2 separate regions of the Homo sapiens genome follow, and region 1 is linked to region 2. The links come from fine-mapping of genetic effects on gene expression. Tissue or cell type: hypothalamus. Region 2 holds a variant in brackets; the other region holds the start of a gene. All regions are shown on one strand. Distances are from middle to middle. Region 1 holds the start of TAB2-AS1 (TAB2 antisense RNA 1). Region 2 has its middle 41 kb from the start of TAB2-AS1.

What was found. PIP is the estimated chance that this variant, and not a neighbour inherited with it, causes the effect.
Region 1: TAB2-AS1 starts here. The variant in region 2 is the best candidate, but not a certain one, in a credible set for the expression of TAB2-AS1 in hypothalamus (GTEx, PIP 0.54).

What each region holds. Positions count from the first base shown.
Region 1 is chr6:149,254,891-149,259,890 of GRCh38, forward strand. It overlaps TAB2-AS1 (TAB2 antisense RNA 1), which reads right to left and starts at 2,661. Exons shown (of 3, transcript NR_149096.1): 1 at 2,494-2,661. It also overlaps a transcript of TAB2 not described here.
Region 2 is chr6:149,214,191-149,219,696 of GRCh38, forward strand. It overlaps a transcript of TAB2 not described here. Among named protein-coding and RNA genes, the nearest start is that of TAB2-AS1, 41 kb to the right of the region's middle. RefSeq lists an enhancer at 3,587-3,676. The variant C/G (reference allele first, on the strand shown) is at 3,191.

The DNA.
Region 1 (5,000 bases), 40 kb after region 2:
ATAAAATGTAACTACCGTATCTAATTTAGATGATACTTAGATGAGACTTTGGACTTTAGACCTTAAAGTTGTTGCTGGAATAAGTCAAGACTTTTGAGGTTGTTGGGATGGAATAAATGTATTTTGCATGGAAGAAGGACATGAATTTTGGGGGACCTGGGGCAAAACGTTATGGACTAATTGTTGATATCCCTTAAAATCCATGTTGAAGCCCTAACCCCCAATGTAATGGTATTTGGAGGTGGAGCCTTTGGAAGGTAATTACGTTTAGATGAGGTCATGAGGGCAGGACCCTGTGATGGGACTGGTCCCGTTAGAAGAGGGAGAGACACCAGAGCTCATTCTCTCCATCAGGAGAGGACATAGCAAGAAGTCTGCAAGCCAGGAAGAGGCCCTCACCAGGAGATGAATCTGCCTGCATCTTGATCTTGAACCTCCCAGCCTCCAGAACTGTGAGAAATAAATGTTTGTTGATTAAGGAAACAAATAAAACATAATTACAATACAATCAAATATATGAAAAAGGAGTGTGTATGTGTGTTTCTGCGTGTGTATACCTACAAAGAAAATAAGACTAAAAAACTATTCTAAAAATATTCATAAGAGTTATCTCTGAATTTTGGCAGAATGTGCAATTTGCTGCTTCTTTGTATTTTTCCAGATTTATCATATCTTCTATAATTAACATGTTACTTCTGTAAATAGGAAAAATATGCAACAAAAGAAATTATGCTAGTGTCTTTGATAAATCTAATAAATCTGGAAGTGTTTGTATTCTAGATTGATTAGCTATTATAATTATGTGATTTCTTTCTTCTTTCAATGGGCCTTGATGTTTAACATATATTTACACAAAATTGCTATGTATATGAGCTAGAGAGGAGTATTTTTAAGTAATCAAGAAGTCATATTTACATTTAGAATTGCCTCTCTTTTCATGCCAGATGTAAAATTTGGAAAGAGAAAGAAGAACCAGGCAGTCGTTGCAGACCATATATACAACTGAGTCCTCCTCAAAAACCTCTCAGTATACTTCCAAGAGGGCAGGAAAAAGGAGAAAAAGAGAGAGCATGTCATGAGACCCAGTTCTCTGGGGGCTCAAGAATGAGTTAAACTAACTCCTTCCACCCTGCTAGCAGGGAAGAGTTGATTGTACCTTCAAGCCTCTGATCAACCAGTATGTGAAAACCCACATACTGAGACACTTCCAGAAAAGAACTGGTTACTATTAAAAAGAAGGAAAGTTAATTTTAAAAAAAGGAAGTGAAAAGGAAGAGGAAACATTTTACAGTTTTCATTGCAAAATGACAATACAATAATTCATCTTAAAATATTATATAATAACTTCATCTCAAAACAATAACACAGTAATTCTGTTGTACTACTAGAGGGCATTGGAGTAAAGGAAATATATTAGAATTGTATGGGTGGAATGTATACTTGCATATAGAATTTAATATTTATAAACTATATAAATTCAGAATTATAAACTATATTAATTTTGCTTCCTCTTTGATAAAACTCTTTCATACACATCATTGCATTAGATTCTCACAACCTCCTTTATGTGGTACTTAACACAAATGTTCTCCCCTTTCTTTATATGAAGAAGAGACCCATGGAGGCAGGGTAGTATTCAAGCCCAAGTCTTATGTGGTCAGGGGAAAACTCGAATATATTATTCATGCTGATGAGATACAGAAATATCTCATTTGCCTTCTTTTTAATATGTTTATTGCACTAGAAAAATTGATTACGCTGGATAAAATTTTCCACACATGGAAAAGCACCCAGTACAGTTCCTGCATTTGGTGGATGTTCCCAAAATATAAGATGACTGACATGTACTTGATCTTAATAAGGAACAGACTTCTTTAGAAAATTACAGCCTTTATATTAGAGTTTTCATTACTCTTTGCTTTGCTCAAAACTCGCCTACATGCTACTGAAGGATTTCATCCCAGGGGATAAAAAACTTTGTCTCAAATATCAGAGGACTTGAGGTCAAAAGCTCCTAAAGGTAGCAATTTATCTCTTTCTTTATAATTAAGTCAGTTTAAATTAATTTGGACCATAGTTCTAAAGAAAACCAATCTGATCCCAAACATTTCACGTGTAAAATGAAAAAGAATAAAGCTAGAAACCACACAACCATCTAAAATTTTTCCTGCTAAGAAAATTGCCACAGTCAGAGTGGTTGGTTAGCTGCTGAAAAACAAGCTGGGTTGCGCTTAGTGAAGATTGAATCTTCCTTTCAACAGACATTGTCTCTGGCTGTGAGGTTCACATCTTACAACACCCAGTAAGCACGTCCACGGAAAGTAAAAAGTTCAATAAATCATTCAGATGGTTTCAAATACTCAAAATACATGCACTCAGGAGGATCCACTGTCTTGGCAGCTGTGTGAATTTTTCACATTTCTACCTGATAAAGTTCTTGGGGAAAAGTTTCCTCTTCTCTGGGAACCTGGGAACATGGTATTCTGCACCCACCTGTGTGTGGAATAGGCATAAATTTGTCTGCCAGATGGGGAAAAACCTTCTAGAAACTAAGATCCATGTTTCTTTAAAATGACTCTGCTTTTTCCCCACTGAGACCCTCAGTGTATGGACCGAATGCAGCTGAAGTAGGGTGGCCTGCCAGGCTTTCAGGGAGCTTCCAGACTGGGCAAGTCAGGGTGGCCCATGAACCCCTGGCCTCAGAATCTTGTCAGTGATGTCAATAATTAGAATTATGCCAATAATAATGTCAGTAATGCTAATAATAATAGTGCTTGTCAATAATGCAGATCCTTGGGGCTCATCTCAGACCTTCCCAATCAGAATCTCTGGGGGCAGAGTCTTGGAGTCTGCATTTTAACAAGCTCCCCTGATAACTCCCCTAAAATCTGGGCAGCACTGATCTCATAGCTCCTGGGGGAGCAAGACAAGCACAAGCGAGGGCAAGTGAATGCAACTCTAAGAAAGAGCACTGGCTCCATCCAAGCGGACAGATCAACGACGGGTACACAGACTGGTCAGGAAAAAAATGCTAGACAGAGAGAAGTTCAAACAGTGGGGAGTGACGAAGAAGCAAGCTTTTGCCCACATGAGAGAAAGTGTAGCTCCCCATCCAGTCCACGCTACTATAGCAACTAGGGAAGTTGAGATAGCAGAGGGAGAACTGCAGCAGCTGTGTTTGTGGCTAGGCCCGCTGGTCTGGATGCGGCCTGGGATTTGCCCCTTCTCCAGCTAGAGAGTCTGGGGATCCCACAGGAGCAGTAAGGCCACACAGCGGTGTTGTGCACATGAACCGAAGGCAGTGAGTCTCTACTCTAGTGGTGAGCCCATTAGTGTTTAACAATGGGCTCTCCAGGGGAAAATAAAACCCTGACTTACAGCATTTGCCGCTTTCTATGGTGTAAATACTCCCACCATGGCTAATTTCAAGTCATTCAGTGATGTCACTGAACATGAACTTAGGAAAATATAGACACACAATGGCTCTCACATGCCAGAGTGAGCCCCCTCCAGTGCATGACTGCCTACACACACACACACACACACACACACACACACACACACTTCTCACATAAATACACTTTTACTTTTGTATGATTCTGTCCTATACCTAAGGGAAGAAGACTGTTCCTCCTGTCCAGTAACTGAACATACAACTATTCTTTGCTGATCATGCATTTGCTCAGAAGCATCCATTTTTATACAAAAGATAATTTTTCCCTGAGTTAAGTAAAAAGTTTTGCATTGAGAAAATGTTAATCACTGTTAACCTATCTCTTTTCAGTCTGATAAAGAAATTACCATATGCCTATATAGTATATCAGCAGATTAGTTTCTCTCCCTTCCCAAAAGACATTCACATCCTAATCACCAGAACGTGTGAATACATCATGTGACATGGCAAAGGGAAATTAAGGTTGAAGGTGGAAGCAAGCTACTGATCAGCTGACTTTAAAGTAGGGAGATTATTCTGGATGATTCTGGACCAGTGTTAGCACAGAGGTTCAGCAGGGTTGGTGTCAGAGTTATGGGATGTGAATAAGGTTCTACAACCCACTGCTGGCTTTGAAAATGGAGGAAAGGGCCACAAACCAAAGAATGAGGGTCACCTCTAGACGCTAGAAAGGGCAAGAAAACACTCTCTCCCAGGGCCTCCAGAAAGGAACACAATGCTGTCAACCCCTTGATTTTAGCTCAGTGAGAGCCACTTTAGACTTCTGACTTCCAGAACTGTGGGATAATAAACTGGTGTTGTTCTAAGACACTAAGTTTGTGGTCATTTTCGACAGTAACAATAGGAAACTAATGGAGGATGTTTTTCAGGGAAGTGGCAAAACAAAGCAAGAAAAATATATAACTAGAAAGCCATAAATGGCCCTAGAAATGCTGACCACATCTGTTCACAGTGCAGACATAGAAAGGCTGCCTATAGCACGCTCCCTCTACACACACACACACACACACACACACACACACACACACATACACACAATCTGGGAGAGGGCTCTGCAAAGCCTAGGGAAGCAGTTTGAGTCTCACTGAGAAACATATAGATGTTAGGGGGCTTATATCTGTCACTTTGTCCCAACTCTTCTGTCAGAATGTTCCATCTCCACATCACCTAATTTAAATACATTGAAACAAGATCCTCACTGTGAAATTAATACCTGCACCATTGGTCAGAACTGGCATTTAGCATTGCCCAACCTGGACAAAGGCAGGATATTCAGGAATCTCCAGAAGAATTAGACATCCTGTCTTATAGATGCTTATTCATAAAAGAGTGGGGAGAGCCTGAAGGTGTAAAATGTGTTATTTGCCACCTTTAAAACTTCTCCATGGTGCTGAGAGGTCCATCAGTCAAACTGCCACATTTTACAGATGAGGAATAAGAGACATGATACAAGTGGCCCAAAGCCACCCCTTCCACTCATCAGTGTCAGAGCCGGGACATAGCCTGGCCCCTCCCCTTGGTTCCTCCACTGTAGCCCATGACAGGG
Region 2 (5,506 bases):
AAAACTCGGAGGCAAACACAATTCCTCTCCCTTTCCAATATGTCCAAATCAGCTGTCAACTCCATACCCAATATATAGCCCAAAGCAATCCACTTCACTCCATCACCATGGCTGTCTCCACAGTCCATGTCACAGTCTCCAGATGACTATAAAACTTCCCAGCAAGTCTCCCTGCATCCAGTCTTGCCCCCTTAGAATCCATTCTCCACACTGCAACCCACGTGATCATCTAGGAACATAAATCCTATCATGTCACTCCTTGTTTAAGACCCTCCGATGGTTTCCTTGAAACTTAGAGGAAATTTCAAACACTTTCAGAGCCCTGTGTGAATCAGCCACACCCTCCCCACTCCTCCTGTGTACCCCTGTCTTTCCCGCACCCTCTGTGCTCCAGTCACACTGAACTTCCTTCTGTCTCAAACACACCAGCCTTATTCCCACCTCAGACCCTCGCAGTGGCTGTTCCCTCTCCATGAGATGCCCTTCTTGCAGAGGCCGGCTCCCTCCTGATGTTAGATGCCAGCTTAAATATCACCTCTTCAGAAAAGCCTTTCAGGATTACCATGCCTAATGCACCTTCATCACATCACCCTGTCCTATTGGTATTATGGCTCTTACCACTGCCTGACTTTAAATCAGCTCTCTCCCCTCATGAAAGTATAAGGCCCCAAGGGCAGGAACTTGTTTATTACTATATCTAGTGGTGGTATCCAAATTATTTAACAACAGGTCTGGCATAGACTCCAACCCATCAGAAGGGATGCCCATCTGTAAACCCTCAGCTGGCCTGACTGCAAAGTAGTCACTGGACATCAGCCTTCTTGTGTCCTGCATCTGAACAGTGTGACTCTCAATACATGTCAGTTGAATGGGTGAATGAATAAATTAACAACTGTTTCTTGGTTAGGTTCACTGTTCCATCAGGAACACAGGCCTTCACTGTTTTTCTTAAAAAATATATTTATTTATATATTTATTTTTGAGACTGGGTCTGGCTCTGTCACCCAGGTGGAGTGCAGTTACATGATCACAGCTCACTGCAGCCTCAACTTCCCAGGCTCCAGCGTTCCTTCCTCATTAGCCTCACAGGTAGCTGGGACCACAGGCACATGCCACCACATCTGGCTAATTTTTGTATTTTTGGCCGAGATGGGGTTTCACCATGTTGCCCAGGCTGGTCTCGAACTCCTGAGCTCAAGCAATCCACCCGCCTTAGCCTCCCAAAGTGCTGGGATTACAGGTGTGAGCCACCGTCCCCAGCCACAGGTCTCCATTACTAAAGAAGGGTGTACTGAGCCCCTACATGTCCAGGCCTGATCTGCACCCACTGAGAGGCCCCTCGGTTTTCCTGCACAGGTTACTTCTCTTCAGGGACTGTTGTTGTTTTTAAATTTTATTTGAACCAGTAGCTCTGGAATTTGGGTAGGATGATTTCCGCCCAAGTCCTTGACATCCACCAGTGTTTACTTCCTTTTTGTGCATTCTGTGGGCACCCACGGCTGAACAATAGTGAGAGGGGCTCTGAAACTGATTTCAGAAGATGGGGTTCAAGGTCAAGCAATATCACATGCCAGCTGTGAGTCGTCAGGTCTTGGACAGATTATTTAAGTTCTCTGAGTCTACTTTTCCATCTTTAAAATAGGCACATAATAATGGCCTACCTCCCGGGATGGCTGAAGGACTGTATGAGATGGTACACAGCAAAGTATCAAACCAGCCACACCTAGCATTTGAGAGCCATATGTGTTAATTTCATTTTGCTCACCACTTCTCTTCAGAGTTGTTATGAAAATCAAATGAAATAATACACATGCAGCTGCTCTGCAAACCATATGTAATGTTCAGATTATTGATAATAAATTATCCCTGATTTGAGAAATCAGGTGGCTTTCCAGAAATTATGAAGAGCTGGAAAGGAACTTTAGGCCTTGTGGTGGCAAAGTCAGTGCTCCAGCCAAGGAGGCCCATGCTCTGCTTAGCTAAACGGCCCTCCCTGGAGATAGCATCATTGGAGGGCAATCTTAGTATGTCATACAAGGTTGCTAGGTGCTAAAAATATAGACTTGCCAGTTTCCTACAGAGAAGGAGGGTTTTCTGCTGGGTTCAAGCATTACTCTAGCAGCAAGATCTGGGGGCACCTTCTCTTTTATCTCTCCTCCGAATCAAATGTCTTGCCCTTTATTTGAAAATAAAGCTCTCCCAGCACTTTGGGAGGCTGAGGTAGGTGAATCACTTAAGCTCAGGAGTTTGAGACCAGCCTGGGTAACAAGGCAGAGCCCCATCTCTGCAAAAAAAAAAAAAAAAAAAAAAAAAAAAGAAAGGAAAAACACTCAGCCAGGTGTGGTGGCACTTGCCTGTAGTCCCTGCTACAAGGGAGGATGGCTTGAGCTTGGGAGGTTGAGGCTGCAGTGAGCTGAGTTCGTGCCACTGCATTCCAGCCTGTCTTAAAAAACAAAAGAAAAGAAAGCTCCCTGGGGCTCTCACCTCTCTCATTCATCCAGGCTTTCCCCAGTTCCTGGAATTCTGTCTCCTTCTGCCTTCTCCGGCCACTAGACCACCTCATATGGAAATTCAGACCGTGACCTGAGCAGCCCTATGGAGCTACACATGTCACTTCCTGCTCTCTTCATAGTCACATGCTAGTACACAGCAGCCCCGACCTAGTCACAGCTACCTGCAGTGGGGCCCTCACCCTAAAAGCCCCACCAATACCGACACACAGCCAGTTACCTTGATTTGGAGACATTAAGGTTCTCAGAAGATCACTTAAGCCCTTAAATCAACAAAGTAGTTCTTGATGCGGCCCACAGCGAGGTTTCTTACCAACGCTCTGTCTAACAGCTTCAACCAACTATTTTTGCTAACTAGGTACTAAACTTTTAAAGTCATTATTTAAGTCTTTTGTGCCTCCTAAATTCACTGCCTTGGAGCAAATCCCTGGTCATGAACCTCTGGTTGCCCCCTTGCCCAGACTTTCTCAGAGAGAAAGGTAGGAATGGGTCCCAGAGTTGATGTCTCCACTTAAAACCCATCTGCCACTTACAAACTATTGACCTTCGGCAAATCATTTCATTTCTCCATGCCTCCGTTTCCTCATAGATAAAACTGGTGATGATCATGATGATGTTACCTACATCACAGAGTTTTTGTAGGAAATTAAGAAAATGTCTGTGAGGTGCTCAGCTCAGCA[C/G]AGTGCCTCGCACATTCACAGTAAGTAAAGAATATGTCTTAATTTTAGTATTAGTATTACTGTTTAGCTCAGGAGTAAGCAAATTAAGGCCCAAGTGTCAAATCCTACCACACACATTCATTTACATATTGTCAATGCATGTTTTCACTACAATAGCAGAGTTGAGTGATTGAAACAGAGACAGCATGGCCACAAAGCCTAAAATATTAACTAGCTGGCCCTTTACAGAAAAAGTTTGGCAACTCTGGGTTTAGCCTGTTGTATCTCTCCTTCCTGGCCAGATGGTGAGACCAGCATAAAAACCACTGGTGACAGAGGCTGTTAGTTGCCTCCCAATACCCAGTTTTCTCTTCCTGTATAGTAATAGAATCCTCTCCCCTTTTTAGCCTGCACATGATGCCTGGAATAAAGACTGCATTTCCCAGACTCCCTTGCTACTAGATACAGCCATGTGACTGAGTCCTGGCCAATGGGATGTAATTTTAACTACTTTATGCATTTTTTCTTGGGGGAAAATAAAATTCTTATAGGACTTCCTTTTCCTCCTTTCTGGAGTCTGAAATGTTAAGTATGGAGGCAAAAGCTGAAGCTGGAGCAACAGTCTCAGAATATGACAACAACCATGAGAATGGAGGCCATTCATAGCAGAACTACGAGACAAGAGGAGCCTAGGTCCCTGAGCTGCAGAACTGCATACTAACCTGGTATGCATCTTATTTGAGCAATTTTGGGCTTTCTGCACTCAGTGATGATTTGTTAGTCTTAAAAAATATACTAGACAAATCTTTAAAGAAGAGTAGAAAGCTTATTGTTAGTTAGCCCTCAATGGCTCTTGTTTGACACTACCTAAAAATTCTTTGCAGTAAATTTTGTACTCGGATAGGTTGGTTCTTGGCCACACAGAACAATGTATTCTTGCAGAAGGCCAAAAGAACACTGCACATGTTTTATGTTTATTCAGGGAAAAGGATTAATACTCATTCAAGGAAAAAAAGATTTATTAAAAGGCTTAATCAGGGACAAAAAAGAGACTCATTTGGAATTAAGATTTAAAAGAAGATGAAAGAACAAGCAAAAGAAGAGTGGCATTAAGCCTGAAAAGAGAATCCAAGTCTTGGACTGACACTGGTTCAAGTTGGGTCTCTGGCTCATGCTTCCAAAAGGAGCTGTCCTCTTAGAAGCAAGCCCTCCAGTGGGACAGGGTCAGGGTAGGGGTTGAAAGACACTCTTATATTCTTACAGATGAGAAGACTAATGCTCAGTGAGGTGAACTCCTTCAGGGCCACAGGCTGTAAAGATCTAAACACCATCTGATCCAGTTTCAATATGACTGCCTGGATGAAGAAGGATTTGAGACTAAGTTTATTCCTCCAAAGCAAACCAACTGAGAATGCAGGTAAGGCAGGAAACAGTCATTGTTTCTGGAGAAAGGATCTTCTGTGATCTTGTGTCTGAAGTCTGTTTGAACTTCTGTAGAAATGCCTGGGAAATGCACACTGTGAGTAAAGAAAGGAGACCTAGTACTTTTTAAAATGCCATTGAAATCTGTGACTGTAAAGGAAAGAGACTGCTTGCATCCTGCCAGCAAAAAACAGATTTAGAAAAGAAAGAGCTGTGTCCAGGAAACTTGTGAACTTTCTGTTTGGATGGCATATATTTTCTTTATAAACCCTCTTTCATTGTCACTTACTCAGTTACTAATTACAATAGTCTCTGGGGATGATTGGGCTGGGAGCGTTCAGTGACAACCAGATAGTTAAAGGACATACAGAACACTTCCCAAAATTCAAACCACTGCAGAGCCCAGAAGCTTCACAGTTAGAAAATCTCTGTTCTCAATGAGGCAAGGCCACCATTTCCCATAGTTGTGCCAAATCCGCTTCCAGGGTTAACTTTTGCTTACCAAGTGTTTCATATTTTAACATTTGTGTGTGTGTGTGTGTGTGTGTGTGTGTGTGTGTGTACTGGGACAAGTATATAAGTAAACAGTGTCACACTTTATAACTAACAACTGTATGTGTTATTACCCCATTTTACAGATAAGGAAACTAAGGTCAAACTTAAGAGACTAGTTTGCCCAGATTGCCCGCTAGTAAAGTGGCCTTATTGAGATACCAACTGAGTTATTGTTCATTCAAACCTGCTCTTTAAATTATTTCTCTTTTTTAAAAATGAAGAGCTGGAGAAAATTTCTTATGACCAACTAAAGTCAGAGAAGTCTGTGCTGTTTTGTTTTCAAAGTTACCCAGTACTTTATGTTGCCTTTATTTTTAATCAGTGGCTCTGATTCACCCGCTGCACCTTATGCATTGATGT